Regions from separate parts of the Homo sapiens genome. Here regions 1, 2, 3, 4, 6 and 7 are each reported to be linked to region 5. Evidence: microRNA targets listed by miRTarBase, many of them from high-throughput screens and not tested one by one. Region 5 holds a microRNA gene; each other region holds the end of a gene's coding sequence.

Region 1 (4,224 bases), not on the chromosome of region 5:
CCCTGAGCCTGGCGGGAAGTGGCTGCGGCCCAGGCAGCCAGTCCTGGTGGTGTTCTCCCTGCATGCCCTCCGTGGCTGGGCTGCCACCCCACCCGGCCCGAATCTGTCTTGACCTGCAGGAATACACGGGCGGCGCCAGGCATTACCTCACAGCGGGACTACACAGTTGCTGGCTTTGCTCCTGGGCAAGGAGGAGCAGGCCAGAGCCTCTTTTGCTTCCTTTTCTTGCCCATGCCGCTTCTAGAAGCCAGGCACAGGTTGCCAAGAGGTGACACGAAACAGGAGGAAACTCAGTGACCTCTGCCTCTCCCACATTCCTCCCCGCGGGGGAGGACCTCGCCGCTCTGAAGAGCACCGTGCACATGTGGGTGCACAAACGTGGGTGTTGGTGTGGACGGGGCGCAGATCTCCGTGGATGAACTGCGTCTGGACTCTTAGATTCATAAAATATTCGAGGGTTTGGGAGTCACAGACCCTCCCCTCTCCTCAGTGCACTTTGGCATTTGCACGGTGTCTTCCCCGGACAGCACAGCAATAAATGGTGTGATTGCGTGGACACCGTGGCTCTGTTCTTGGCCAAGTTTCCCCACCTTCTGCCCAGGACTCCACTGCTAATTCGGGCCCATCTTCCTCCCCAAGGAAGACAAATTCTTTTTCTAGCGCTGCAGCAGGGAGGTGGGGTGGGCGGTAAACAGACAGGCTCTGGCAGTGCAGATCTGCTGATCCTCAGCGCCTGCCAGGAGCCAGACTCTTGGCGGAGCAGTGCCACTTCTGCTGGGCTGACCTGCAGCGGAGAGTCTGCCCACCCCGGAGACACCATGAGGGAATGGACCACGTGGGAGCATCTGTGTGCAAGTCTCATTTGGGTGTGTTTATGCTGCGTGTTGTATGCCTGTTTTAGTCATAAAGTAGGCCTGATATTTAAAACCTTGTCTTTAAGTTCAAGGCTGCAGTGAGCCGATTGCACCACTGCACTCCAGCCTGGGCAATAGAGTAAGACCCTGTCTAAAAAAAAAAAAAAAAAATTTCACAGGTGTGTTCTCAGGGAAAAAGAAAAGTTAACACATAAATAAACCCTTTGTCCTCAGATGTGTGTGGAGGGGTGGGGGATCCTCTGAGGGGGGTCCCCAAGAGACTGCGGGAGGGCAGGCTGAGAACGTGGAGGAAAAGGAGCCAGATGTTGGCTCTCAACTCGTGTTGATCACTGGGTGGCTTTTTAAAATCCCAATGCCCAGTGCCCCATCACCAGTTAAATTATTGTTGCTGGGGGTACACCCAGAGTTCAAGCTCTCCAGGTGGTTGTGCATGGTGGCTCACGCCTATAATCCTAGTACCTTGGGAGGCTGAGGCGGGAGGATCACTTGAGGACAGAAGTTCAAGACCAGCCTTGGCAACATAGTGAGAACCCCATCTCTACTAAAAGCTTAAAAATGCGCCTGTGGTTCCAGCTACTTGGGAGGCTGAGGCAGGAGAATCACTTGTCACTTGAGCCTGGGAGGTCAAGGCTGCAGTGAGCCAGGATCACACCACTCCACTCCAGCCTGGGTGACAGAGCAAGACCCTGTTTGAGGGAAAAAAAAAAAAACCCAGGTGACCCTAACGTGTGCCCAGGGTTGGAAACTACTAGGCTAAATAATGGGGGCAAATAGCCAAATGTCATTGCCCGGCTGACTGGATATGGGCCAGTGGGTCCCTTAGACACTGAGAGAAGTGAACTGAAACAAAGGGGTTTGGTTCCATCATTTGTGAGGTATTTGTCCTCAGAGGGTACAAGGATTCCTACCACCCTCCAGGGCCCAGAAAGGAGGGCAGCCAAGAGAGGCAGGGAGGGGGCTGGGAAAGGGGCCTTGGAGGTCATCTTGGCCCTCAGAAGGGGAGCCTGTGCTAGTGTTTCCTTGCTCAGAATCAGAAATCTCTACCGTAGAACACTTGATATATTTTATTTGTTCATTTCCTTTGATTTTGCTTAAATTTCAGTAAAGTTCTTTTTTTCCTCTTTCTTTTCTTTTTTCTTTTGAGAGAGGGTCTTGCTGTCTCACCCAGACTGGAGTGCAGTGGCCTGAGCATGGCTCACTGCAGCCTCAACCTCCCGGGCTCAAGCCATCCTCCTGCCTCAGCCTCCTGAATAGCTGGGATTTACAGGTGTGCACCACCTTGCCTGGCCTTTTTTTTTTCCTGTAGACACAGGGTCTCACTATGTTGCCCAGGCTGGCTTCAAACTCTGGCCTTCAAGCGATCCTCCTGCCTCAGCCTCCCAAAGCACTGGGGTTAAAGGTGTGAGCCACCGTGCCTGGCCAAAGTTCTTTTTTTTTTTTTTTTTTTTTCAGACGAAGTCTATCACCCAGGCTGGAGCTCGGCTCACTGCAACCTTTGCCTCCGGGGTTCAAGCGATTCTCCTGCCTCAGCCTCCTAAGTATCTGAGATTACAGGCATCTGCCAACATGCCCGGCTAGTTTTTTGTATTTTTAGTAGAGATGGGGTTTTGCCATGTTGGCCAGGCTGGTCTCGAACTCCCTGACCTCAAGTGATCCACCTGTGTCAGCCTACCAAAGTGTTGGGATTACAGGTGTGAGCCACTGTGCCCGGCCACTTAGCAAAAAAAAAAAAAAAAAAAAAAAAAAATCCTACCATGATTCAGCGAGGCTGAGGGGAAATGAAGAAAAGGTTTGGTCTGGCATGGGCTGAAGTTGTGAAAAGGCAGAGGCAGGAGAGCCAGGGGGAGTGGTCTGCGCCAGGGAGGCTCAAGGAGAGAGCAGAGGCAGCACCTGCAGCTCCTGTCCCACTTGAAGTTCCTCTGGGGCCGCCCACTGCCCAACCCTTGGAGGGCTCAGAGCTGTGTTTCATTAGGGATGGGTCCCCTCAGAGTCACATCCCGGGCCAGCAGGCCAACTGGAGGGAGCCCCAGGGGCCGTGCTGGACAGCAGACTGGCCCGCACTGTCAGTGCACTGGGAAAGGCATGGGTGCCTGTGGGTAACACGAGGGGAGCAGCAGCTCCTGGACAGTAGTCCCCATCACTTTCTCCCCACAGAGACGTGTAGGCAGGGAGGCAAGGTGAGTAACACCTCTTTACTCAGCAACGTGCTCCTCCCTCGGGGGACCTTCCCCAGTGCCCCTCCATGCTCGAAGGGCCTGGAAGGATCAGAATGCAGGCCTTTCCCAAGGACGGCACAGAACGTGATGAGGAGATGCCACTGGGGGTGCAGAAAGCTCCCCATCCCCCTGGGAAGAGGCGTCAGCGTGCCCTCAGGGTAGTCAGGTCCTGAGCTTTGGACTCCTCGCTTGGTTAAAGGCACTGTCCCTTGTGCAATCTAGAGGAATGCTCCTCAAAGCATCTCTCCTGGGGACCAGGAGAGCCGCCCCTGCTCCCAATGCAACAAGATCCCTGATCGCCAGCCTCTTGCCTCCCTCAGAGGGAGACAAGTCCGCACTGGAGGGAGCACGGCTGCCTAGCTCCCTGTCACCTCCCCCACCTCTCTATCTGTTCACTGGGACAACAGAGGATCCCTGAAGCCGCTGGAGGAGCTGGCTTTGCAGGTCTTCCTCCATCACCTTCCACCAAGAGAAGTTCTCACCCCGAACTTTTGGGGGTTCATCCTGGATCCCTGGGCTCCGAAAAGCCACGGTCACCAGCACATTCAAACAGATGCCATCACTGTGATCTCGGCCCAGGTGCTGCAGTCCAAGCAACCCCTTGATCTCCACCACCAAGTGGTGCAGGGTCAGACACTCCTGCAGCAGCCGCAGGACGGCCATCTTCATGCCACCCCTCTGCTCCATAGGGTCGAGGCCACAGGCAGTGACAGGCAAGTGAGGCATCCCCACTGTGCCCACTAACACCCACACTGTCTGGGCGCTGGTAAAGGTAGCCACGAGCCGCTGGCAGACCAGATCACAGGGTAGCTCTTGGGGCAGAATGAGAGGGTGCCTGGCTTGCTGGCGATACTGGGCGGCTAGTTCAACCAGGTGCAGGATGTCATGGGCTCGCAGCGGAGTGGGCAGGGAGGTCCGTGGGTACCAGGCAGCCTGCAGGGACTCCGCATCGGCCTCCTTGGAAGTCTTGAGAATTCCACCTGGGGGAGATGTGGGGGATGGGGCAGGGAGGGTCTGTGTGGAGAGAAGTGCAGCTCTGGCAGAGTCAACAGACATCCCTGACCCAGGAGAGAGGCCCCCAGCCCAAAGGCTGGAATCTGCCCATGCCAGGCTGTGCCAGCCATAACAGGACT
Region 2 (4,224 bases), not on the chromosome of region 5:
TCAGAGACATAGTGCAGAGGAACAGGAGGGGTGGACAGAAAACTGGGACATGGCCTTCCTGGGGGGAATGGTGAGGAGGGGCTGCTAACTGAGTAAATTCCCCCAAAGGAAAACAGGGACAACAGTAAAGAATAAAGGCTTCCCCCTCCCTCCCCAAAGCCGTTTCCTCTCTAGGCAGAGTAAAACAGAATCTCCAAACACCCACGGGGCAGCTCCTCCACCTCCCCTCGCCAGGGACTTAGGACAGCAGTGGGGCATAAACACCAGGCTCAGACATGACACCGAGTGCACTGAGGCCACGCACAGCCCCACCTGCTTGCCCTCAGCCCCCTGCTCTGCTCTGAGTGGCAGGGGACTGACCCGGTGGGTCGCCTGTCCCAGGCTCCCAGGGCAGCTGCTTCCAACTGGGTTTCACTACTGTGAGGCACCTGCAGGACTCTGGAGGCCAAGAGGAGGGGAGAGGCTGGGGCCCCCTCTCTCTGCCTGGGGAAATGTTTCTGACAAGAATCATGGCTTCTCGAGGCTCCAGCCCCCACCAGACAGGTCCACAGTGTGGCAGGTCCCCCAGTGGCCTTGGCCCCAGGCTCTGGTGACGCGTCCTCCCCTGGTGCCCAGCCAGTCTCAGGATGGGGGCGGCTTGCTGTTGTTGTTCCCCACCTCTGGGTTGCCCCTCACTCCCCTGTTTTGCCTCTCAGCTTTTCTTGTTTTGTGTTAAACAAATCTCTGGATGAAAACCCCCACTTGAAATCCATTTTCCTGGGTGGGCCCTGAGAGATGGAAACTGGGCTGTGCACAAGGGGAATTGTGAAGGGCAGGCTGAAACCTTCCGGCGACACCCTCCAGTCGGCCCTCCTCTCTTGCGCACCTTTAAGAAGTGAAGGGTGGGCAGGCGATGACTGAGCCAGAGGGGGAGATAGCCTGCAGAGCCTGTGTCCTCACCCCAGGGGCATGTCTGCTGGGGGCTGCGCAGACAGTCTCTGCACGTCCACCCATGTGCTCACTGAACCACAGTGACATGCCACTGACACACAGCAGGGACACCATGGCCCCAGAAAGGGAGCGGGTGGCTGGGAAACCCTCTCAGCACCAAATGCTTCCAACGGCAAAGGCACAGACTAGAGGCGCCTCGGCACCCTTCCTCCATTGCCTGGGGGATTCTGTCAGAACGAGGGGGCAGTTTCCAGAGACAAAGGGAGAGCGTGAAGTCTCAGTCAACATCACCCTCCTAGGATGACTGGACTACAGAACCACGAGCTTTACTTACAAGAGGAAGGAAAAGCCTGCTTGGCACACGTGGCTCGAACAAGCTGCGCTTTTCCCAAAGCCAAATGTCAACTGGGTAGATAGGAGGGGCCTCCCTTCTCCTGCTTCAGACCTGGCCTGACTCCTGTCTCCAAATCTCTTGGGCCTGGGTGAGAGGGCCTCTCCCAAAAGGCAGAGAAAATGAAGCTGGCAGCTGAGTCACGGGCAGCTAATTGTTTCCAGAATCTGCAGTCACCACTTAGTAGGGGTTCAGAGAGAAAGTGAAAGGGTGAGGGAATCATTTCCCCTTCTGGGTCCAAGTACGACAATAAATCCAGAGCAGGGTACAGACAGACAGCTTTCCTGTGTCTTTTTCTTTAGGGAAGAAACATCCACGTGATGCGGCACCTCCTCCCAGGTCTTTGCTGAAGGGACCCCTCAGTGGGAACCCTGAGGAGAACCCCTGCCTGCCACCTCCACCCCTCTCACCAAATGCTTCTGACACAGGCCCCACCCTCAGCGCCCCAAGCCAAGACCCAGCACAGCTCCAAGAGTGGGTGGTGGTGGAGACATCCCATGCTCGCCCTTGCAGAAGCCTAAGATGAGAACCAACTCCTCCTCAGAAAAGAAGCTGAGATGTCTGCAAAACCGCCCTCCACCTCACACAGCACGCTCTCTCTGCCAAGCGGAGCTCAGCCTCCGAGGACACAGACATCTACAGCATCATTATCCTTACCAAGTTACCTCGTGCTTCCCAGGGTGTCAATTCAATTGTAGCCACTCTGTCTTGCAACAGCTTGGCTATTTGGGCCTCTCGTATCTGCCATCCAGCTGCCTCCTAGTAACCCCAGAGATGGCTGGGAGATCAGACTCCAGTTGTCTTTCTTGGGACTGTGACCCTGTGCCTGCAAACAGAGGGCAGGGGAGTTGCCAGCCTCACATCTGCTCAGGGAGCTCATCGGGCGCTGAGCTATTCCTATCCTTGCAGCTGCCAGCACAAGTAGCACAGCTACTCAGCACAGCTGAGTGGCCAACTGTGATGCCACCAAGGGCTCGTGCCGAGGGCAGGTGGGAAACACGAAGAGCCCAAGCCAAAGGAGCAGGCAGGTCCCCCGGGGCCTAGGTCACATGTGCTCACAAGATGTTGGGCTGGAGGGGTGGGGGTCATGGGGTTGGCCACACAGACTCATACCCACAAACACAGTTCTCTCACTCCACACCTCTAGGCCAAACAGAGTCTGTCTGCTTAAAATGAAACTAGGTCATTTGTGACCTGCTGTAGGACCCACCTGGCAGCAGTTCTTCATCAGCTGGTTTGGCTGCAAGGGAACAGGGCAGTAAGCAAACGGCTTGTCACAGTGATACACACGCTTGGCACTTTTAACAACTGCTCTTGCTGGAGCTGTCTGTGACCAAGCAGAGCCGGGCAGAACACCAGTTTCTCTCCAACCACAAAACACAGATGATGAGTTTACAGGCTTATCTTTTGTCAGAACCTCGGTAATTCTGTTCCTTGGAGGAGTAGGAGGGAGGGTCACATATAGGAATGCAGAGGGTAAACAGCAAATTCCCCCATTTCAAAAAAACAAGGATGAAGCCTATCGAGAAAAAGCTGAGTGACGGTAACAGCAAGGACAGGGAAATACCTTGAACCTCATAAACACTGGCGCATTTCTTAAGAAAAATCCATTCAGAAAGATGCCATGGCCCTCCTGTACATATTTAGTAACTATACAGCATAAGACCGAGCTGAGCGGACACATGCAGGGTGGCAGCGGCTCTGAGCTTGCAGCAGCCCCACTGCCAAGTGGCCGCTGTTGCTGGGTGGGGCGCAGGGCGCTGCAGAAGGGAGGAGGTGGAGGGGTTCCCTCAGCCCCTCAATTCTCAGCAGGTCTCGCTCCGTAACAGCGAGGTCTCTGACAAGAAAGCGAGGTGCTGCTGATCCACACGTGGAGACACAGGATTTGGAACGTGCACTCCCACAGTTCCTTCCCCGCCCCATTGCGTCTCCATGGATGCACGCAGAGGTCTCCCACTGAAATGTACTGGGAGTGGGGCTGCCTTCTTCCCAGGCACGGCTGTGAACATCAGCAGGACAGTGCAGCAAGTCTTGGATTGTAGAATGAATCAGGGAAAGCTCAGTCTGACACACAGCACGTGAGTTCTAGAAAAGGGAAGTAACAGTGTGAAGGTTAAACAAGTCCCGATGGTGGAGGCAAGATGAAAGGGAGGATGGACTCACCCCTCCCAACATCACAACCTTCAGGGAAAGGAGGCTCAGCAGTAGGTCAAAGAAAATCTCATGACTAGGCCAGGTGTGGTGGCTCATGCCCATAATCCCAGCACTTTGAGAGGCCAAGGCCGGTGGATGGCTTGAGGCCAGAAGTTCAAGACAGTCTGGACGACATAGCATCACTCTGTCTCTACCAAAATAAAAATAAAAAGTTAGCCAGGTGTGGTGGTGCATGCCTGTAGTCCCAGCTACTTCAGGAGGCTGAGGGGGGAGGACTGCTTGAGCTCACAAAGCCAAGGCTGCAGTGAGCTGTGGTCGCACCACGGCACTCCAGCCCAGGCGACAGAGCAAGACCCTGTCTGAAAAAAAAAAAAAGGGCTCACAATGTAGTTTAACACTGGATCAAAGGGAAAGTTTAATTAGGGCCAATAAAATATATAATTGATACTGAAGGACGGAAAGATCTTAAAAGCTGGGTTTTGAATAGGCGGGTTTAGTGGTCACTGGAGAGGTGCTACAGTACACCAGGCAAGAGAAGAGACTCATGGAACTTTTCTGACGGATACTAAGGAATAGGGAACACAGTTGGCTGGGAGGAGGCACGATCTCATCTGAGCTCATCATAATTAATCATAATGATGTGGGCACCCAGAGGCTATGAACACATTTCTTGTAGGAGGGGAGTGAACTTCACTCTCCCACAGTGTCAGGAACTATTCCTATGCCCCTCACTCCCACCCCCTCCACTT
Region 3 (4,224 bases), not on the chromosome of region 5:
AATGATTAAGAATATATTCACTAAGCGTTTTCATGGATTTGGGAGTCTTGTTCCTATATTAGCTTTCATTCTAGACAATTAATATTTATATAGGGAAAGGCAATAAGCAAGTTTTTTCCAGTCATTAAGTGTGACTTTTATGCCTAGTAAGACTGATGCAAGACATCTTTTCCTAAAGTTTAGTAAACAACTTTAATAAGCTCCTTTTTCCCCCTACAAGAGCTTGTAATATTAGTCAACTGGTATTCCAACTGTCTCTTAAGGGGAAAGGGCACTTTTCAAAAGTCTTTCACTAAAAAATAATAAAAGTACCAGTTAAACAAATTCTAAGTACTGAATAAGCAAATTAAAGGTACAATTAAACCTAGGAACCAATTTTTAGAGTTAAAACTTTGGAGGAGAGAACATACTATATAGGTTTTTATTATTATTGCTTTATGAATTTGGGTTACCACTTTGAATCATCATCCTACTCCTAGCATATCTTGGTATAGAGAATTACTTCTGGGGCAAGAGGAAGACTTTTATGCTTTTTAATGAATACCATGAAATTATTCTACTTTACTAAGTTAGGAATATTCATTTATTGGGTCCTTTCCATAAGCACATTTAAAAACCATCCCTCTGCTCCACAAAATATTAAAACTTATAGCCACATTGTGCAAGTAATCTCAAGAGCTGGCACAACGGATAATATACCAAAAAGGAAGATCAGCTTAAATTTCAGTTACAACTTCACTGCCATCACTACTTTAACAAATCAGAAGACGCCAGATTGCTCCATGCCTCACTCCACCAAACCAAATAATTTAATGATTTAGAAAAATTGCAATCATTTGTATCACTAAACTAGGATACAGCTTTGAAAGCAGTAAAAAACGCAAAACTTCTGCTTTTATACTCATCAGTCTTTAAAGCATGCTATTAAAATCTAATACTCACATAGGACATTCAGTTTTCAGATCACGTTACTAGCTAAATGTTTCTCTTCATTCTATTGCAATTCTAACATACAATGAATTTATTAGTACATGATTTTAAACATTTTTATTGTACTCTTTTAATGTGTTTATATTGGAGGTGAGGGTAGAATGTTTTATAAAAGGAAAATGGGGATTTGCTTTTGATTGTAGGTCTTTGCAGATCCGCTGGTTCCTGAGTGATAATACACAGTGCTGGCTGTCAGGAGACAGTCTCCTTGTTTATTAGCAATGACCAGCTTGGATGACAGATGGCATCTGCTGGATGGCAAGTGGGAGATGGGGAAATCGGATCTTGGAAGACAAGAAAAAATTAAAAAAAAAAAATTTTTGCTTTAACAGCCTTCTCTTCATGATTATTTTTAAAAGCAAATGTTGCCTGAGAAGAATTTTACTTTGCACAGCCTGGTAAAGCTCTTCTGGACAGAAAAATAAAAACAAGAAATAACCCAAACCCACACACTTTGTGATTAAACCCCTCCCCAACAAAATAACAAAAAACACCCTCAAAGGCAGGTCCCGTTAAAAACTAGTCTGGATAAACTGGAATTTACCCTAGAATTTATACCCAAGATTTAAAAACACCCCTGCAATAATCACATTACCTTTCATACCATTCTAATTACCTTATTTACAAAGATAACTAAAGCCAACATCACTTCCAATTCATAAATGGTTTACATTGAAATGTATCCCTATTTGTCTTCATCCTTTGTAACAGAGAATACATACATATACATATATATAAGGAATAATACAGATTCTAACTAATCACTGCAGTATTTGCTGATGGTTACTTTTCTATCGGTTTACACAGTGACCTCTATACTTTGCTAATATGCATTTAACTACACAACAATATTGCACAAAGTAATATTTATATAAGATTTAACCTATTTCAGAATATTTTAGAGAAAATTCATATTTGATATTTCAAAAGATGCAGCTAAGTTTTCATGGTGACAGACATAATAAAGCAGCATCTTGTATTTTTTTTTTTTTTTGCCTATGTTAATGTAAATATTTCAAATCTTACCATCCAGGAAAAAAAAAAAATCTCCAAATTGCACTGTAACCAGGGAGATATAAGAATCTGGTCTTAGGTGTGGGGAGTACTCTTCCATTAATAAACAAAAGGCCTACTGTATTATTAACTAAGAGAAAGTATAATGTGAATCATGTTAACATTCTAAAATAACAGAAAGTTAGGACCATACTAGCAATGTGAACTGTGCCTGTTTGAAAAGAAAATTTAAATACTCAGGCACTAAGCATTAGCCTACCTGAAACTCTAGGATGAAGTCTAGTGCTGTATTCTTTCTTAGAAAATAGCAACACAGAGTAATAGTAAATAAACCCAGGTATTCACCAGTTAAAACTGTGAATTGAAGTGTCTCAGTAGTAGATATTTATCATGAAGAGGTTGATGCCAAGTGACAAGAATAGTTTATCATAAGATTGATGCTCAAAATATGGCAGCCTCATCAGAAAGACTATTATTATTCTCTAAGTTTAATAGTTGTGATCAGTTTAGGAAGCAAAATTATCCCCACAAAATGTGAGGATGCCAGGAAGCAGAACAATAGAGTATCATGTCAACATTATCTCTTTTACCCAAAATATCTTCAACAGTTAGCATATATTCTAGAAGAGATTAATGAGCCATGGATAATGAATGACCAAGGACTATTCATCTTTAGATTTTTTTTTTAATTGAAATATCCACTGGGCTTTAAATAACAGATACAAAAAAAAGACAGTTTGGATCAGAAAGTGCTGTGCTTTCTCTTTTGTTAAGAAACCAGAGAGCCACTGAAATTTCCTTGGAAACTACTTGTTATTTGTGGTTAGAACTAAATAACTTACTTGCCCATGTACCAGATGCAGAAATTCTTTCCTGCAACCTATGCCATTTTCACTGTAGAAATTGAACCTGTGCCATAAAGACACAAGTACTAAACCATAAATCTTATTTATCCATAAAAACAGCAAATATGGCAAGAGACAAGGCAAGATAAAATTAAGGGAAGTGAATAATTTACCAAACAAGAATCTGTTATTCCAGAGAATTCTCATTTTGATTTGAAGAAGAGATTGAATTGTTACCTCACACCTTAAAACAGAAAGTAGCAGCAGACCCACTATTACATACTGTACTAACGGGATAAGATACAACTCTTAACTTTGCATAATCTGTGTAAAAAAGATATGCTTGACATTTGTGGAATGTCATTTCTCTTTATAGAATTATAGGCAAGATTTCTCCAATAAAACTTAACTTAAGCCAGTTATAAAACTATAACTTCACATCAAAATTTAAAAAAGTTAAAAAATGTGTTTGAATATGTACATATCACACAGAAGTGGTTGAATGTTCTTGCAGATTGTGTTGCTGGTCAGAGTCCAGTCTACTTTCCACTTTTAAAACTGGAATAGGCTGAGTCTTCTGATCTTGCTGTAGATTAAGTTCTGATGCAGGTGGGAAAGATGATGAAGCAGTTGTTAACAGCTGAATCTCTGTGCATGCTTCTTCAGATTCAGTTTTTATCCTCACACATTGGGAGTCAACTTCTAATTCTCGCTTTCCAGTTAAACCACAGTCCATGTTAGAATTGCTTTCTGTGTTTTGAGTGGCTTCCACAACAGGGTGGTACTGTTTAAGCCTTATATGCCAGGCTAAGCTGCACACCGCCGAAACTGTTTTGAACTGATGAATGACATTTCTAGGGATGAAGTAGATATCATTGTCGCAAAGCTGAATTCTAGCATAACGAATGCCTTCCCGCCTCATTTGGTTTAGTTTAGCTTCATCTACCCACTGTACGCACTGAAGAAAGAAAAAAGTTACGTGAGACTTTAAAATATGTAATAATTTAGTCAAGTGAAATAATTAGCAAAGGAAAACAGTAGAAACAAAATGTGTCATAACAATAATCAAATTAAAATTAAGCAACACTAAATGATAGGTAACTCTCTAAAAATTCTTGTAATGCCTGGGAAATTATTTTCCTCCTATTTTACTACCTCTTTAGTAACAAAGTACAGGTTAAAATCAGAATGGCTTAGAGAATCATTTAAGTATTTCAAAGTACAGCTAAGTATCAATATTCTTTACCACACATAAAGGCAACATGTTTTCTTTTCTTTTAGTGTGTCTTTCAGCCTTTTGCAGTTGAGGGGACACAGTGCAATGGGGTTAACAAGTGAGACAGCTCATGGCCATAACTGAGCCGCCTGGGACCTC
Region 4 (4,224 bases), not on the chromosome of region 5:
TCATGTTAAAATATTTCTACCTCTGTATTTCCTTGTAACTAAGTGTATGTGTCATTGTTTTGTTACTGATCCCATGAAGAATTAGAAATTCTCACCATTTTCAAAACTGAAAAGTCCCTTAGCAGTTGTCCCATGCTTTGAATTGCTTTTTAAGCATTACGGTGAGGTGAGTGTAAGCCTGAGGATCTTACTTTCTGGTATACCATTTATTACAACAGATTTCTAAAACTCCTATTAAATAAAGTTGATGGCAGAATAGATTTCTGTCACACTTCACTATCGTGTAGTTTTTGTAACTATTTCTTTTCAAAATCTAGTCTTTTTAAAAATTTTTTTAGGAATTTAAAGCTCCTGGCCTGGCGCGGTGGCTCATGCCTCTAATCCCAGCCCTTTGGGAGGTTGAGTGAATCACTTAAGGTCAGGAGTTGGAAGACCAGCCTGGCCTACATGGCAAAACCCTGTCTCTGCTAAAAATACAAAAATGAGCTAGGCATGGTGGCACATGCCTGAAATCCCAGCTACACAGCAGGCTGAGGCAGGAAAATTGCTTGAACCCGGGAGGCAGAGGTTGCAGTGAGCTGAGATTGTACCATTGCACTCCAGCCTGGGTGACAGTGGGACTCCGTCTTCAAAAAAAATTTTTTTTCAACATTTAAACCTATTGTTTTAACCTTATTTTTATTCTTCCCACAGTGGAATCTCTAGCGTTGTCACTCATGGCTGGCATGGAACAAAGTTAAATGTCTTCAGCGTAATAAATATCTCCGACTTTGTCATCATACATGTACATTTCCACCATGTGCAGCTGAAAAGTGAAAATATTTTTATTTTGGTTTATTTGTAAAACTTGTCCACAGTCAGCCTGGCACAGTCGCTCATGCCTCTAATCCCAGCACGATGGGAGGCCAAGACAGGCAGATCACTTGAGCCCAGGAGTTTGAGGCCAGCCTGGGCAACATGGTGAAACCCGGTGTCTACCAAAAATACAAAATGTATCCAGACATGGTGGTGTGTACCTGTAGTCCCAGCTACTCAGGAGGCAAAGATGGGAGGATTACTTGAGCCCAGGAGGTCAAGGCTACAGTGAGCCATGATTGCACTACTGCAGTGCAACCTGGGTGACAGAGTGAGACCCTGACTCAGAAAGAACCACTTGCCCACAGTCCAGACAGATGGATTGTAGGTGGGTTTTCTGGAGATTAGTAGATACTGTATAGAGTTGTATACATAAAATTGTGTCAGTAGTACAAAGTGTATATAGGCTGTTTACTCTTACATTTCCTACTGTAAGATACAGATTTATGGTACTGATACCTTTAAATTATATCATATTTTGAAAATGTAATTACTGATATTCAAAATAAATTAAAGGACTTAAAATCATTTTATTATCCTTTTGCTGCTGTCCTACAGTCACAGAAGCTTTTTATATAGAGTTTTACATGTTGTCTTCCCTAAAAGTTGTCTTAGATGTAGCTGTCCTAGAAATGTTTATATTTTGGCTGGGTGTAGTTTCTCAAGCTTGTAATCCTGGCACTTTGAAAGACTGAGGTGAGAGGATTCCTTGAGGCCAGCAGTTTAAGACCTGCCTAGGCAACATATGAGACCCCATCTCTCCAAAAACAACTTAAAAATTAGCCAAGGGCTGGGCACGGTGGCTCACCCCTGTAATCCCAGCACTTTGGGAGGCCGAGGTGGGCGGATCATCTGAGGTCAGGAGTTCAAGACCAGCCTGGCCAATGTGGTGAAACCCCGTCTCTACTAAAAATACAAAAAAATTAGCCAGGTGTGGTGGCCCACATCTGTAATCCCAGCTACTTGGGAGGCTGAGGCAGGAGAATCACTTGAACCCAGGAGGCAGAGGTTGCGGTGAGCCTAGATTGTACCACTGCACTCCATCCTGGGTGACAGAGCAAGACTCCGAAAAAAAAAAATTAGCCAAGCATGGTGGCACATGCCTGTGGTCCCAGCTACTTGGGAGGCTGAGGTGGGAGGATCGATTGAGACCGGGAGGTCAAGGCTGCAGTGAACCATGATTGCATCACTGCACTCCAGCCTGGACAACAGAGCAAGACCTTGTCTCCAACAAAAAAAAAGAAAGAAAGAAATGTATATATGTTTTGTTGTGCCTGAGAAGTTCTACATGGAAAATAGCTTCAACTGATAGCGATAAATGTAAAAGGCCAACTTCACTTAGGGCCAACTGTTGGTACATACTATTGTTTGGTATTTCCTTGTTTTTTGAAATGTGGAGGCTCACTCTGTTACCTAGGCTGCAGTGCAGTAGCACGATCTCGGCTCACTACAACCTCTGCCTCCTGGATTCAAGTGATTCTCCTGCCTCAGCCTCCCGAGTAGCTGGGATCTCAGGCGTGCACCACCACGCCCAGCTAATTTTTGTATTTTTAGTAGAGACAGGGTTTCACCTTGTTGGCCAGACTGGTGTCGAACTCCTGGCCTCAGGTGATCCACCCGCCTTAGCCTCCCAAAGTGCTGGGATTACAGGCGTGAGCCACTGTGCCTGGCAATATTTCTGAGCAATTTTTGTGAGCTAACCAGTTATATTTTGAATAGAATTATGCTTACTATTAAATTTTTCCATATTTTCTTTTTATAGAGTGAGACTATCTTTAAAAAAAAAAAAGGCCACACATAGTGACTCATGCCTGCAATCCCAGCACTTTGGGAAGCCAAGGTGGGTGGATCATGAGGTCAGGAGTTCGAGACCAGCCTGACCAATGTGGTGAAACCTTGTCTCTACTAAAAATACAAAAATTAGCTGGGCGTGGTGGCACACACCTGTAATCCTAGCTACTCAGGAGGCTGAGGCCAGAGAATTGCTTGAACCTGGGTGGCCGGAGGTTGCAGTGAGCTGAGATCATGCCACTGCACTCCAGCCTGGGCGACAGAGCGAGACTCTGTCTCAGAAAAAAATAAGAAAAAGAAAAAAAATATGAAAGCTAGAACTGGAAACAACAAAATGTGGAAGTTAGGACTAGAAAGCTTCTAGAAGCAAACATGGGAAATTAACACTACAAACTTGGGGTAGACAAAGATTTCTTACATAAAATCAAAAAAGGGGCCGAGCACGGTGGCTCATGCCTGCAGTCCCAGCACTTTGGGAGGTCAAGGTGGGTGGATCACCTGAGGTCAAGAGTTCCAGACCAGCCTGACCAATATGGGGAAACCCCGTCTCTACTAAAAATACAAAAATCAGCCGGGCGTGGTGGCGCACACCTGTAGTCCCAGCTACTCAGGAGGCTGAGACAGGAGAATCGCTTGAACCTGGGAGGCAGAGGTTGCAGTGAGCCGAGATCACACCACTGCACTCCAGCCTGGGTGACAGAGCAAGACTCCGTCTCAAAAGGAAAAAAAAAAAGGAATTATTGGTGAATTGGACATCACCAAAAAACATTGCTAGGAAAATGGTAATACAGGCCACAGACTGGGAGAGAACATTTCCCCTTAGCCCCTTTCAGGAACCATGTCATGCCCAGAGGCAACCACTGTTGCCCAGGGTGTCCAGAAGTAACTATGTTCAGAGTGTATGAAGGCATTTTAAATTAGTAAGACAAGCTTTTTTTTTTTTCATTGATGCAAGGTCTTGCTTTGTTGCCCATGCTGGAGCGCATTGGCACAGTCTTGGCTCACTGAAGCCTCAACCTCCGGGGAGCAAGCACTCCTCCCTCAGCCTCCTGAGTAGCTGAGACTACAGGTATGCACCACCATATGCGGCTAATCTTTTGTGTTTTTTTGGAAGAGTTGGGTTTTCAGCCAGGTGCAGTGGCTCATGCCTATAATCCCAGCACTTTGGAAGGCCTAGGCAGACCGATCACTTGAGGCCAGGAGTTTGAGACCCGCCTGGCCAACATGGTGAAACTCCATCTCTACTAAAAATACAAAAAATAGCTGGGTGTGGTGACAGACACCTGTAGTCCCACCTACTCTGGGAAGGCTGAGGCATGAGAATTGCTTAAACCTGGGAGTTGGAAGTGGCAGTGAGCCAAGATCACACCACAGCCCTTCGGCCTGGGTGACAGAGCAAGACTCTGATTCAAAAATTAAAGAAAATAAAAATTAAAAAGATGAAGTCTTAACTATGTTCCCCGGCTGATGTGAATTCCTGGGCCCAAGTAGTCCTCTGGCCTCAGCCTCCCAAAGTGCTGGGATTACAGGTGTGCGCCATTGCACCCAGCCCAAGACATTTTTTTTAATGAGCACAAA
Region 5 (4,224 bases):
AGTGACAAACTCCTATATGACATCAGTTTCTCTGCCTCATGATTTTAAACTTTAGGAAGGTTGACTATGTTTGTTTCCCTCTTGCATGCATAAAACCTTGCCTGACATCTCACATCTCTTATAGTCATTTACACTACAGTTTTTGCCTTTACATCCAAATATAGATGTAAGTTTTAAAAAAATAAATTTGAAACAACAAATTACTAAAACATATATTTCTCTTACATTCCTAGCCGTGATATTATACATTCTGAAGAGAGAAAATTTCAGCTGACACCATGTTGGAAAAGGCAAATACTCTCAAAATTTTGTGTCTGCTTCATGAAATATAAAAGCATATAGTCAAATACAGCACACAGAAAAACAATAGCAACTGCTTGCTCCAAAAACTAGACTGGTAATCCTAATCCAAAAAGTGGACCTGAAAATAAAGATGGCAAAGACATGACAAACATACAAACCCTTTTTCACCTTACTAATTCCCTACCTAGAGTAGACATTGATGAATGGATGGATACCAGAAATCAAACCTTTTTGTAATCCTGTTTTAAAGATTTAACTGGCTTAAGTCCAACCTAGCTGGCTCTTCCATGACTTTCTCTACAGTGTGTCTGAATTTTCAATACAATGGAAATTATAGTAAAGTAGCAAGTTTTCCTACAGTTTACTTGGGGATTTTAGAATTGGTCTTACCTGATTTATTCTGAAACTGAGTCAATGAAAATCCAGTCTCTAAATACACACACACACACACACACACAAACACAAACACACACTTCAGGAATAGCCAATCCAGGGGATAATTTCAAAGTCTAGTACATAATTGATAAACACTATTCAAAAATTTTTATTCTTTTATATTCAAGTGACACTCAAGGAAAGAAAAATAACTCTAGTCTACTTTTCCTTCGCACAATACAACACTTGGTACTTTTCACTGAAATCATACCTTAATTTTCAAATCTTTCACCATTTACAAACTCTAAAAAGTGTAAAGATGAGTGATTCAGAGAGTGAGACTATGTAAACCATTTACACAAAGACATTGAAACCCTCTGGACAAGTTGAATGAGAACAAATCAGCACTTACTTGGCATAAACCACTGATGCACATATCCAAAGATTCTGTATAGCAACGCGTACCATCTAAGACCTTAGGTGCTAGTTCAACAACCAGGGTTGTTCCTTTGGCTTGGCACTTGAGTGAACATGGGTTGTCAGGGTCATTAGACACAGGAAGCCATTCATAAAACTGGCCATGGTGCTTGACATCATTATGAGCTGAGCATTGCTGAGCTCGGAAATCACCTGCTTCTGGTGGGCAGTCCTGGAGAAAAAAGAGAGAAAGGACATACAAAGGTTAGGAGGATACCCCCAAACATGAAACCAGAGCAGCTATATGGTCTGCTTAGGTCTTAGAAAGCAAAACAAATGTCCTGGTCATGATAGATGGAACTTATAATATCATCTTAGAGGTTATATGATTATTTGGCTTGCAAAATGTAGAAATCTGATAAAGCAATCACCTCAAAATACATTTTCTGATTGAGTTTAAATGGAAAAATAATTGGCTTGAAATAGATATTCTGATTAGGTGGGACATACATTTTTTGAAAGTTGTCTATTGGTTCATGAATTCTTCCACACTGTACTATCATTTTGACTTCCTCATAAGTAGAACCTAGTAAAGTCAGAGGATTAGTTGAAATTATTTGTCTCTTTCAGTTCTGATATTGAGAGCTATGACAATTGTTTATTTGAATAACTAGCAGTAAAAAGTTATAAAAATTTCATTCAAAAAGTTTTTGTGGAGTTGTAATTTTTTGTCTAGGACTTAGGTTGCATAGTATCTAGAATTAAACATGGGGAACAAAAAATATGAAACCATTTATATATGAATTGCTTTGGCTTAAGGCAGCATGGCAGAATGGAAAGAGCATGGACTTCCTCCTTAGATGGGTGGGTGGCTGCAATGCAGTGCAGAGTTATTGCCCCTATTCTAACACAGGGAAGCCTAGTCTTGTGTTAGAACAGAGGCAATAACTCTGCACAGCTCTCAAGGTTGTTGTGAGAAGTTCACGAACTCATGCTGGCCAAATATATGCACAAGGAATATACTGAGTAGATGGTAGCTATTACTATGATTATTTAATGAGGCCACAGAAGGCAAAGGGATGGAGTATGAGGAGATTCTCTCAATTTGAATTGTAAATTATATTGTTAGAGATCAGTGGAAAATAAGAATCTTTTTGATGTAAGTTTCATAAAGGGCAATTTAAAATGTAAAACTATGGCTAACAATGGCCATTATCTAATGAATAATAAATCTCAGTAAAAGCAGGTAAGATTTAATTTTAAAAAGGCAAATATTGCCTATCCCTTGGAAGGGCTTTTTGATAGGTTTATCTTATTCTACAAGCCTTCAGATTAAAATTTACCATGGAAGACTGTCGTCGACTCTCCAGCTGTAGAAAGGCTTTTATTCTAATTTTTTGTTTTAAATAAAGGATTTCCATGTAGCCTTCAGCAGTTCCCTGTTACTACATTATCATTGTGAGAGTTCTCTTATATAAGGTTTCTTTCTCTGAAAAATCTCTTTACCTTTAAATAAGCATTCTAAAACAGCACTGAAAATTTTGACTCTTTTCCAAAACATTAGTGATACTACTAAAGAGCATATAACGCTCTGGTAGTTGAGGGAGCACAAATTCTTTCTAGGCAATGTGGGGTAGAAACAAATATTTATTTAGGATGAACATGAAATTGTTCAAAATACAATATAAAATGTCAAAGACATTTTACTGTTAGTATTATGTGTTCTCAGAGTGAATAAACCATAGTAGCAGAGGAAAAGAATAATGTATATAACATAGGTACAGATACACAGGCACCCAGCAAGGCTTAACATTTTGAATATTGTCTGAAAAGAGTATGAATAAAATTTACCAATTATTAATTTTTTAGATAATAGGATGCAGTTTAAATTTTTTAAGATCCATAAATAAATAAATATGTGTGCTATACAGGCTGTTTACACGTTTATTTTGTAAAATAAAACAAAAACTACCTACAACCAGCAAAACTATATTATGAATTACAACACAGGTAAATTGTGTCAAATCATGACATACAATACAAATTAACTTTATTTTTTTTTTTTTTGACAAGGAGTCTCGCTCTGTCTCCCCGGGTGGAGTGTAGTGGCGTGATCTCGGCTCACTGCAACCTCCGCCTCCTGGGTTCAAGCAGTTCTCCTACCTCAGCCTTCTGAGCAGTTGGGATTACAGGCATGTGCCCCCACACCCAGCTCATTTTTTTATATTTTTAGTAGAGACAGGGTTTTGCCATGTTGGCCAGGCTGGTCTCGAACTCCTGACCTCAGGTGATCCACCTGCCTTGGCCTCTCAAAGTGCTGGGATTATAGGCATGAGCCACCGCAACTGGCCACAAACAACTTTAAATGTTTAACACAAGCTCCTTTCAGACCATATGTTCTAGAGCACAGAGAAACTGATTTAATATTGTCTTAATGAACTCACATTCCAAAGATAAGACTTCCACTTGCCTAATTTACAAATTCTACCAATATCTGCCTAGGCCTCACTTACTAACTTCTGCCCTAAAACAACTCTATAACTAACAACTGCCCCCAAACTCTACACGTAGCCTTCCTTAAATTTCCCCACTTGAGATACGATAGAGTCTCTGTCAAGGTGCTGCTCTCTCCTGCTTAGCATGTTTAATAAACCTACCTTTATATGATCCACAAGTTCCTGGTCATTGAATGGGAGCGTCTAAAGTTGAACTGACAGTTTAGCAATGTTTAAATACAGTATTTTCGTTTGATAGTACCTATCATCCCAGGAGTCACTTGATTACTCAGTACAAGTACAGAAGAAGTAGAGTACATTGTACTGGGGGTACAGTACTTCATTATACTGAAATACAATAAAGCAGAACATTGAGGAAATTGTTTGAAATGGTTCCAAACTCCTCTTAAAATTTCCTTTGCCTCCTTTTTCTATACAAGTGAAACAGTTAGAAGGGTCAGGCTGAATCGCCTCTGCCTTAATGAGCAGAAGATATAATTAAGAGACCTCTTAATATGAACCAGGGAAAATTTTCTGCACGTTTCCAATTCTGATAAAAGTGTCAATTATGTTTTTAAATTGATAATGCAATATCATCTTAGTACAGACATAAAACCTCTACAGAGTCTCCTAT
Region 6 (4,224 bases), not on the chromosome of region 5:
TGCTTGATCTCTCTAGTCTATAAACTTCATGAAGGCAGGGCCATGTCTGTCTTGTTTATCACTGCTCTTTCAGTGCCTAGCCTATAGTAAGTACTCCACAAACATGTGTAGACTAATGAATACTAAGAAAAGCAATTACTCATAGAACTTAAAATACAGGAGAGGCATTAGTAGATGTTATGTAGACTGTGCTTGGTTGGTGGCAGACCTGGGAAAAGCAGGTCTTGTGATTTTTTAGCCCAGTAGCTTTTGTATCACCCACCCCACCACCTCTGTGCTTCATGGCATGCTAATATTTCCAAAATCTTTTCCTGGAGAAAATACAATTAAATAATGTATTACCCTTTTATCATTCATAATGCAGCTTTCCATACATGTTATGGTTTGAATTTTTCCCCACAACTTCATTTGTTGGAGACTTCATTCCTCAGTGTGGCAGTGTTGGGAGGTGGGGCCTAGTAAGAGGTATCTAGGTCATGGCCTTTCTCATTATTACCTTTCTCTCAGGAATGGGTTAGCTATTGCAGGATTTCAGCCCCCTTTTCTCTCTCACAAGCATGCCCTCTCACCTCTTCTGCTTTTCTGCCATGCTATGAAGCAGCACAAGGCCCTCATCAGATGCAACCACCAGGTCTTGAACTTCCCAGCCTCCAGAACCATGAGCTAAATAAAGCTCTTTCCTTTATAAATTATCCAGACCCAGGCATTTTGTTATAGCAGCAGAAAACAAACTAAATACACTACTACTATTCTAATTCATTAGTGGCAGGGGGATAAATAAAAATAGGACAATAATTTATATTTTTTATATGAAGATTCATCTGAAGAAGGATATAATTAATTTGATATTTGGTGCTCTGCTTTCCTGGGACTTTGGCTAAAGAATGCTGTTTGCATAGCCAAAACTTTCTTCCTTTCACAACTGCTGTGTTTCCTGATAATATCAACCTTTCCTTTTGTTCAAGTAAAATATGCACAAAATCTTCTCAGTAAAATTCCAGAATCTCATCTGTCTGCTATTTAATGTCCCACATGGTATACTTTAAAATGTTTTTTTCTGTTATCCTTCCTTATCAGTAGAAAAGAAGAAAGACACAGATTAGTTAGGATGTGAACATTAGCAACATAACACCACACATTCATGTTTTGGTAATGTGTTAACTAGAAACTGTTTTTGCAATTCTAAAAAGCTTTCTTCACTCAAGGGAAGAAAGTGCCTATCATTCATCATCACATTCTTGAGAATGTTTTTCTGAGCTGTAGATACGGACTTCTGCACATCACCAGAGTGTTTTCAAGTATGCTGGCTGTTTGCTGTTCATGTCTGACGCTAACCCTGGACCCATTCCTTTGAGGCCTCCCTGGACCCATTCCTTTGAGGCCTCTCTCTGTGTATGTTCCACTTTTCAGAAGCTAGTGGTTTTAGTTGGACCCTTTTAAGTTAAGGTTCTCACCCAAGAACTGGCCAGCAAACCATCAGGAGCTGAGAGCTTTGGGAACTGGTCTTTCATTCTCTCTCAATGTCTCCCTCCTTATTGGGAGCTCTCATTGCCCCCTTGGCTTTATGGCTTCTATTTCTATCCATCTTTTCAGCTTCAGCTTTTAGTACTAACCAGTTTTTCCTCTGATAGTTCACAATCCAAATTCCCATGGAAGAAATCTGGTTAACTCATCTCAATTCTCCATGGCCAAGTTGTGTTGAAGGTCATTGTCAGCCCATGAATTGGCTGATGCCAACCCCGGTGCTGAGGCCAGGATGACTGGCTGGGTATGAGTGGGGGTGCTGGGGTAACCTACAAAACCTAATAGCACCTAACATACAACAAAAGAGAGAATGAGGGCAACTTCTTAAGGAAATCAGAGTAGACGTCTTTTATATTGTGGGTAGGATTTCTTTAAAACTTTAACATTCATCTGAATAGTCTATTCTTTTATTCATTAGTTTTAGCGCTATATTAACTATATGATATGAATTTAATGTTATACTTTCATTATTGCTTCTTGATAATATAGTATCCAAAAAAGAGTCTAGACCTATTTCACAGAGGAGGAACCCAGAGATGGTATGTAACTATCCTAAAGTCATGGGGTTATAGAAAGGCAGAGAATGAGAAGCAGATATCCCAATTCCCAGTCAAAAAAGCGGATATCCCAAATTCCCAGCACTAACATGAACTGGATTAAAGAACCTAGATAATATTCCCAATAATTAGGAAATTAGTTTGTTACCAAAGGGATTTCCTTCTTTTCTCATCTAAGAGGATATGCCAAAGAGAAATGAACATGTGAAGAGTTCTAATATGTAACTACTGTTATAAAACATTTAAAATGTAAAATTGGCACCTTTTCAAAACTTACACATTAAGAAATCATTTTAAAGTTTATTCAAATGACAGAATCTTATCATGCTTCACATTCTGTTTTTTGAATACTTAAGAAAACTTCTATAAATGTGTAACAAATGTATGTATGTATAAATTAATTATAAATGAGAAACCACCCTTTACAAAAAAAATTTATTTATTCCATCAACTACACCCAAATAATTTCAAAAAGTATATCAAAGAATTATTTCTAAATTGATTTTTTTCTTGCTGTACGTAGCGCTAAGGAAAACCTGTCAGCTCTTAAGCTTTTGTTTGACCTGCTTTGTCAAATGCTTTGTGAAATGATATTCAGAACAGCACCATGTGATGTCAACTTGCATTAATTCTTTCCCAAAGAGAGGTGTTCAGTATTCAAACTGTGTTTATACTGGCACAATCTATTTATGTGTCAGCTTCATTTCTGAAAGTTTACAAGTACCTCTTCCTTTGGAAGACTCTGTTCTTTCTTGCAATTTCTCTTCTAAAACAACCTTTGAAAGGACAATAATAATGTCCTATAAAGCTCCTTTCAGGGAAGTCATTAAGAAAATGATAAATATTTCACAGAATTGAATTAAAATGTTGGCTATATGTCAATGTTAAGTTTTACTATTTTCATCACAGATATATCATGAAAAATTAAAACTTTCATTTATTCATCTAAGGAAAGATTTCTCAAAGAAGTAAATCCATAAACAATATTGTACATGTTTTTATGTAAAAGATAATTTATTAATTTGTTTTCAGCTGTCAAGAACCGAATGCATTTGTTACTAAAATTATAAAATGTCCCTTAATTAGGTTATAGTAATGATTGTGTATATTAGCAAACACCTAAATGTTTTACTGATTGGGTAATGTGGGGTAAATAAAAAAACATTCATTTCAAATTTCTTCATTTAAAAGAACAATGTAAATCATTTATCTATTATTCTGTCTTGCTTAGAAAACACTTAACAGAAAGGTTTCATTAAGATTCTAAATTTAGACTTTGATGATTTTGAAATGAATTCCTGGTTTCCTCTATTCCCCTGGGAGCCAGTTATAATAATTTCAAGGACAGTCATTAGCAACTCTAATTCAGTTGACTGCTGAAGGTCTTTTTTCAAGTTTTGTCCTTTCCACCTTTTTTCTGAAGCCGGTTTCTGGTTGGTTCGGTCAATACCAAAGGTTCTTGTATGATGACTGCTGGGTAATTTTTGCCTAATAGTTCAACTTCCACTTGCTGTCCCACTTCACTTAGTTGTACAGGGACATATGCGAAAGCCAGACTCTTCTGGATGCTGTAGCTATAGCTTCCAGATGTCGTGTTGCCAACCACCTGGAAAACAAGACCCAACAGTCCTCAGCATCTTGGTCACAGCTCTGTGCTCCTCATCTCTGGGTGAAAAAAAACTAAAATACAGATTCAACTTACAAAATGGAAGTTTTATGAAGTGCTGTCTGGGGGGACAACGCCAGAGACACAGGAGGAAAACTTCACATTTTGAGAAGATGAATGAAAGTTTACAAATTATGAAAAGTAATTATCAAGGTACACATCTGTATTACTCTGAAATTTCTCATTTTTAAAATAGTAATACTTGGTTTAGGCCAGGAGTGGTGGCTCGTGCCTGTAATCCCAGCACTTGGGGAGGCTGAGGCAGGCGGATCATTTGAGGTCAGGAGTTCAAGAACAGCCTGGCCAAAATGGTGAAACCCCGTCTCTACTAAAAATACAAAAATTAGCTGGGCATGATGGCGGGCGCCTATACTCTCAGCTAATCAGAAGGCTGAAGCATGAGAATTGCTTGAACCCGGGAGGTGGAGGTTGCAGTGAGCTGAGATCTGGCCACTGCACTCCAGCCTGGATGACAGA
Region 7 (4,224 bases), not on the chromosome of region 5:
ATACTAGAGGACTAATACTGAGCATGAAAAATCATAGCAAGGCAATTTACCAGAATTTGCAAATACTTATCAACCTATTTTATATGGCACCTGTAGACAGCATCTGAGGAATATTTGTACAAAGGTAATTTGGTAATTTAAGTAACACTGTACACTAAAACTTTGGCATCTACATTACATTTAAAGCCAACCAATAGTTGTCAGTTCCTGCAAGCAGCCTACTTCAGTATGAGAGCAGAGGTTTATCAGTGTTATGCCTACAACTTTAATTCATTCATCTAGAGGATTTTCACTGATTTTTATAGAAAGAACCCAAATGATTCTACTTAGTAATACATTTATAATCAAGAAAGAATCTGTTAAGACCTTGAAAGACAGCAGGAAATGCTTTGTCTGTTGCCTGTGGTGGGGTAAGGAACAAAGCACAACTGGTGAAAGATTGGCTGAAAATGAATTTCGTCTACTTTCTATTGACCCTGACAGAAAAAATACTACTTCACTGTATAAACATAAAGACATGCCTGCCAATGCAAAGGTCTATCACTAGGTCTTCTTCCCTTTTAAAAAATATTAGAGCATGCATTCTCAATGGGGGTCAATCACTACCAAGGATTTAAAAAAAAAAAATTGGTTGGGCATGGTGGCTCACGCCTGTAATCCCAGCACTTTGGGAGGCCAAGGCAGGCAGACCACGAGGTCAGGAGTTTGAGACCAGCCTGATCAACGTGGTGAAACCTCTACTAAAAATACAAAAATTAGCCAGGGGTGGTGGTGGCCGCCTGTAATCCCAGCTACTCAGGAGGCTGAAGCAAGAGAATCGCTTGAACCCAGGAGGCAGAGATTGCAGTGAGCTGAGATCATGCCATTGCACTCCAGCCCAGGTAACAGAGTGAGACTGTCTCCAAAACAAAAACAAAAACATTTTACTCTTTTCATGTACAAAGCACAGAAACAGTACATACACAGCGTATCTATGGTAATAAAATTTATGGGGGACTCTATTAGAAAAAAGTCTAGCTGGGCGCGGTGGCTCAAGCCCATAATCCCAGCACTTTGGGAGGCTGAGGCGGGTGGATCACAAGGTCAGGAGATTGAGACCATCCTCGCTAATCCGGTGAAACCTCGTCTCTACTAAAAATACAAAAAAATTAGTCGGGCATGGTGGCGGGCGCCTGTAGTCCCAGCTACTCGGGAGGCTGAGGCAGGAGAATGGCGTGAACCCGGGAGGCGGAACTTGCAGTGAGCCAAGATCGCGCCACTGCACTCCAGCCTGGTGACAGAGCGAGACTCCGTCTCAAAAAAAAAAAAAAAAAAGCCTAAAAAGGCTGGGGGTATGATAATGGAAAAAAGCTTTTGAAAAACTGAATTAGAAGTCCAACCTCTTGGTCACATGCATTTCCCCTAACTAAAATATGCTATTTCAAAATATCCTGTAGCATTTTTGGTATATGGAGGTTTTTTTTTTTAAATAAGAATGGAATAAACATCTATATATAGAATGAAATAACATCTATAACTCACAGAGTAAGGCTAAGAAACTTACAACCAGCTCTAAAAACTCATTTAGTTTCTAAGGAGACAGCCTTAGAAACTGACAGTTAGAAAAAACATTTATCCAATCATAATTAAAAGTACAATTTAACATCTATATTAAGAATTACATACTTGAGGCCATAGGCTGGCACTGGCACCTGAATTCTAAAATTACCACTTAAGATTCAGAATGGAATCTTTTTATATGGAATGGAATCTGCAATCTTTTTATAAAGCATTCCCTTTCTTTACACTATTACTGTCACAAGTGATATCCACTTACTATAATGTTCTACTAAGTAAACACTACAGTGTCATTATGAAGAAACAAACTACGATCAAAGATAATAATGTAGTTCTGGAAGATGACACACTTTTTCACTATACACAGTATAAAATGGCACACTTTGTATGGAAGAAACATGCAATGAATTGGTTGTAGAAATATTAATGTAGTTTTAGCTACACCAGAATTCTGTGTAGGTGGTTTACAGTTTGGGAGTCTAATTATTACTTAATGGTATACAGATACAGTAAAGACATCTGAACACACAACATACAATACCACTAGGTATTAACATGGAATTTAAAAAAAAAAAGACTGATGTATAAAGCCTAAGTGTAAGTATGGACTTTATTTTTTTAAAAAAAAGTCTTTTGAGAACTACAAATTACAAAGTAAAAGCAGATCACTACGTAGAAATCTAGTGAATACATTTTGCCTGTGCATGAAAAACTTTATCAAAGTTACTCATTTTAACAAATTCACCCCATTCACAACAATCAGTTATAATGTTCTTTTTAAGGTTACTATACCTTTATTTCAAATTATATTACATGTTATTCCCTCAAAATGAACTTTTAAATGACAAACTTTTGGCTCATAAGAATGGCACCTTCAAAAGGGGCGATTTCCACTCAGTCTCTGGTGGCATTATTCCAGGCTAGTTTCACCAGTTAAAAACCTTCAAAATGTTCACTTTTAACACAAAGTCTTCCCATAAAAAATGTGGCTACATTTTCCCCCCAATGACTACATACATAGATGGGTAGCAGCAAGAAAAGATGAAAATGAAAAGGCAGCCATTAAAATAAATGGATCAATTGTATACCAAGAAGTATTTGGCTCATGGCAATTAAAAAACGGCAACTAGGGTATGTTAATAGCCAGAGGCTTGAGTCATTACTGAGTATATTAAGAGAACGAAGCCAGTCCAGTATGACCGAGTAGGAATATATAATTGTCATTGCACTTCATTTGTTATAGCAAATACTCTAAGCCAATAGGAAATCTAAGCTATATCTAGATTCCCAATTAGAACATGCTGACCTTTAACATTTTCAACAATTTTTACTGGGTTTAGTACATCAGTCATTTTCTTTACTCAAACTCCATTACGAGTTCTTTCCTATCAATCTAAGTGTATTCTGTGCATAAAATACCTTAAATGTTAAGACTTTTCTAAGGTTCATTTGAAAATGGTTGTATGAAAAGAATACCCATTTGTTTTGCCTGGAAAGATAGAAACTAAATGCAGAAGTTTCTCAAGGGGAAAAAGCTCAACTTTCTTCTTCCCACCACCTCTGCCACATTATGATTTCCTAAACTTTTCAAGTCTGTTCTCCATGGCTTCTCTAAGGATGAAAACCAGAGACCAAACAATTGAGCTTTAGGATATCTGGAGTTAAAAATGCAAAACAAAACAAAACAAAACAAAACAAAAAGTTAACATGCAAGCAATGGTCCACGTACTCAAGATTCATGTTAAATGAATTCGATTATTACATATGGGTTTTTCATTGATGAGCAGGGCTCCGGGCATGCCATATTATCTCACAAATCATTGCCTTTTGAGACTCTGGATACTTTTCCAGTTTAATTTGCAAACAGAATTTTTATAACAAATTATTTTTTAACCAAATCATATCCTTAAAACTGTTTATAGAAAACCCAGGGAATAAAGTGAACTGTTCATTGTGGAAGGCCTTAAATTACATTATTACAGTAGAAAATACAGGAGGTAGAAGATAACTGAAAAGACTAATGCAACATTAGATTCAAATCTATAGCTCCTGTAGCTACTTAAAACATGGTTTTAGAAACTAAACCCAACATTTCCAGCAACCATAGAAACAGTTAAAATAAAATTTGCCATGAAAGCCCTTATATCATGCTTGATACAGGGAGGTAGGAAGATGTAAGAACCAGGACACATGAGACATGACATTTTATCTACAACTCCTGTTTGCTTTACTGAGGGTGTAGTTTCAAAATTCAGTCACCTTCTTCAGCTTCAGATTCAGATTCTAGAAAAGGGGAAAAAAACAGTCAAACATTATGTATCAGAAGGCAAAAGTTCCCATTTATAACTTTGAAGCTTCTTTAAGACAGAGTCTCCCTCTGTCCCACAGGCCGGAATGCAGCAGCACCCTCTTGGCTCACTGCAACCTCTGCCTCCCGGGTTCAAGTGATCCTCCCACTTCAGTTTCCCAAGTAGCTGGAACTACAGGCGCCCACCACCAAAACTGGCTAATTTTTTATTTTTAGTAGAGACTGGGTTTCCCATGTTGTCCAGGCTGGCCTCATACTCCTGGCCTCAAATGACCTGATCGCCTCAGCCTCCCAAAGTGCTAGGATTACAGGCGTGAGCCACCACACCCAGCCTCCATGTAACTTTGAAGCTGTTAACG

The links. The annotated mature microRNA hsa-miR-3152-5p reads AUUGCCUCUGUUCUAACACAAG and lies in region 5 at 2,020-2,041, opposite strand. An mRNA with a match to its seed (bases 2 to 7 or 8) in the 3' UTR can be bound and repressed. Matches are read on the target gene's strand: a 7mer-m8 pairs with bases 2 to 8, a 7mer-A1 pairs with bases 2 to 7 and ends in A, and an 8mer does both.
Region 1: the mRNA of NUDT18 is a reported target of hsa-miR-3152-5p. Seed matches in the 3' UTR shown: 7mer-m8 at 3,399-3,405.
Region 2: the mRNA of MTA3 is a reported target of hsa-miR-3152-5p. Seed matches in the 3' UTR shown: 8mer at 684-691.
Region 3: miRTarBase lists RSBN1 as a target of hsa-miR-3152-5p. Seed matches in the 3' UTR shown: 7mer-A1 at 1,982-1,988.
Region 4: the mRNA of TUBGCP5 is a reported target of hsa-miR-3152-5p. Seed matches in the 3' UTR shown: 8mer at 1,037-1,044.
Region 6: miRTarBase lists DMGDH as a target of hsa-miR-3152-5p. The part of its 3' UTR that is shown has no 7-base or 8-base seed match.
Region 7: the mRNA of BZW1 is a reported target of hsa-miR-3152-5p. Seed matches in the 3' UTR shown: 7mer-A1 at 3,042-3,048 and 7mer-A1 at 2,251-2,257.

What each region holds. Positions count from the first base shown.
Region 1 is chr8:22,103,825-22,108,048 of GRCh38, forward strand. NUDT18 (nudix hydrolase 18) reads right to left here. Exons shown (of 3, transcript NM_024815.4): 3 at 3,054-4,071. The coding sequence ends at 3,476. It overlaps FHIP2B (FHF complex subunit HOOK interacting protein 2B), which reads left to right. Exons shown (of 17, transcript NM_022749.7): 17 at 1-1,087. Among named protein-coding and RNA genes, the nearest start is that of NUDT18, 3.5 kb to the right of the region's middle. RefSeq lists a silencer at 473-620, enhancers at 3,395-3,539, 3,936-4,224 and a cis regulatory region at 3,467.
Region 2 is chr2:42,752,556-42,756,779 of GRCh38, reverse strand. It overlaps MTA3 (metastasis associated 1 family member 3), which reads right to left. Exons shown (of 17, transcript NM_001330442.2): 17 at 1-3,406. The coding sequence ends at 3,381. Among named protein-coding and RNA genes, the nearest start is that of OXER1, 9.5 kb to the left of the region's middle. RefSeq lists enhancers at 1-165, 166-736.
Region 3 is chr1:113,762,647-113,766,870 of GRCh38, forward strand. RSBN1 (round spermatid basic protein 1) reads right to left here. Exons shown (of 7, transcript NM_018364.5): 7 at 1-3,807. The coding sequence ends at 3,334. Among named protein-coding and RNA genes, the nearest start is that of PHTF1, 5.3 kb to the left of the region's middle.
Region 4 is chr15:22,996,336-23,000,559 of GRCh38, reverse strand. TUBGCP5 (tubulin gamma complex component 5) reads left to right here. Exons shown (of 23, transcript NM_052903.6): 23 at 694-1,383. The coding sequence ends at 740. Among named protein-coding and RNA genes, the nearest start is that of CYFIP1, 18 kb to the right of the region's middle.
Region 5 is chr9:18,571,133-18,575,356 of GRCh38, reverse strand. MIR3152 (microRNA 3152) reads right to left here and starts at 2,051; the gene lies at 1,978-2,051. It overlaps ADAMTSL1 (ADAMTS like 1), which reads right to left. Exons shown (of 29, transcript NM_001040272.6): 4 at 1,091-1,327.
Region 6 is chr5:78,994,611-78,998,834 of GRCh38, forward strand. It overlaps DMGDH (dimethylglycine dehydrogenase), which reads right to left. Exons shown (of 16, transcript NM_013391.3): 16 at 2,954-3,687. The coding sequence ends at 3,472. Among named protein-coding and RNA genes, the nearest start is that of ARSB, 11 kb to the left of the region's middle. RefSeq lists an enhancer at 3,277-4,224.
Region 7 is chr2:200,821,763-200,825,986 of GRCh38, reverse strand. BZW1 (basic leucine zipper and W2 domains 1) reads right to left here. Exons shown (of 12, transcript NM_001207067.2): 12 at 1-3,840. The coding sequence ends at 3,809. Among named protein-coding and RNA genes, the nearest start is that of BZW1-AS1, 12 kb to the right of the region's middle.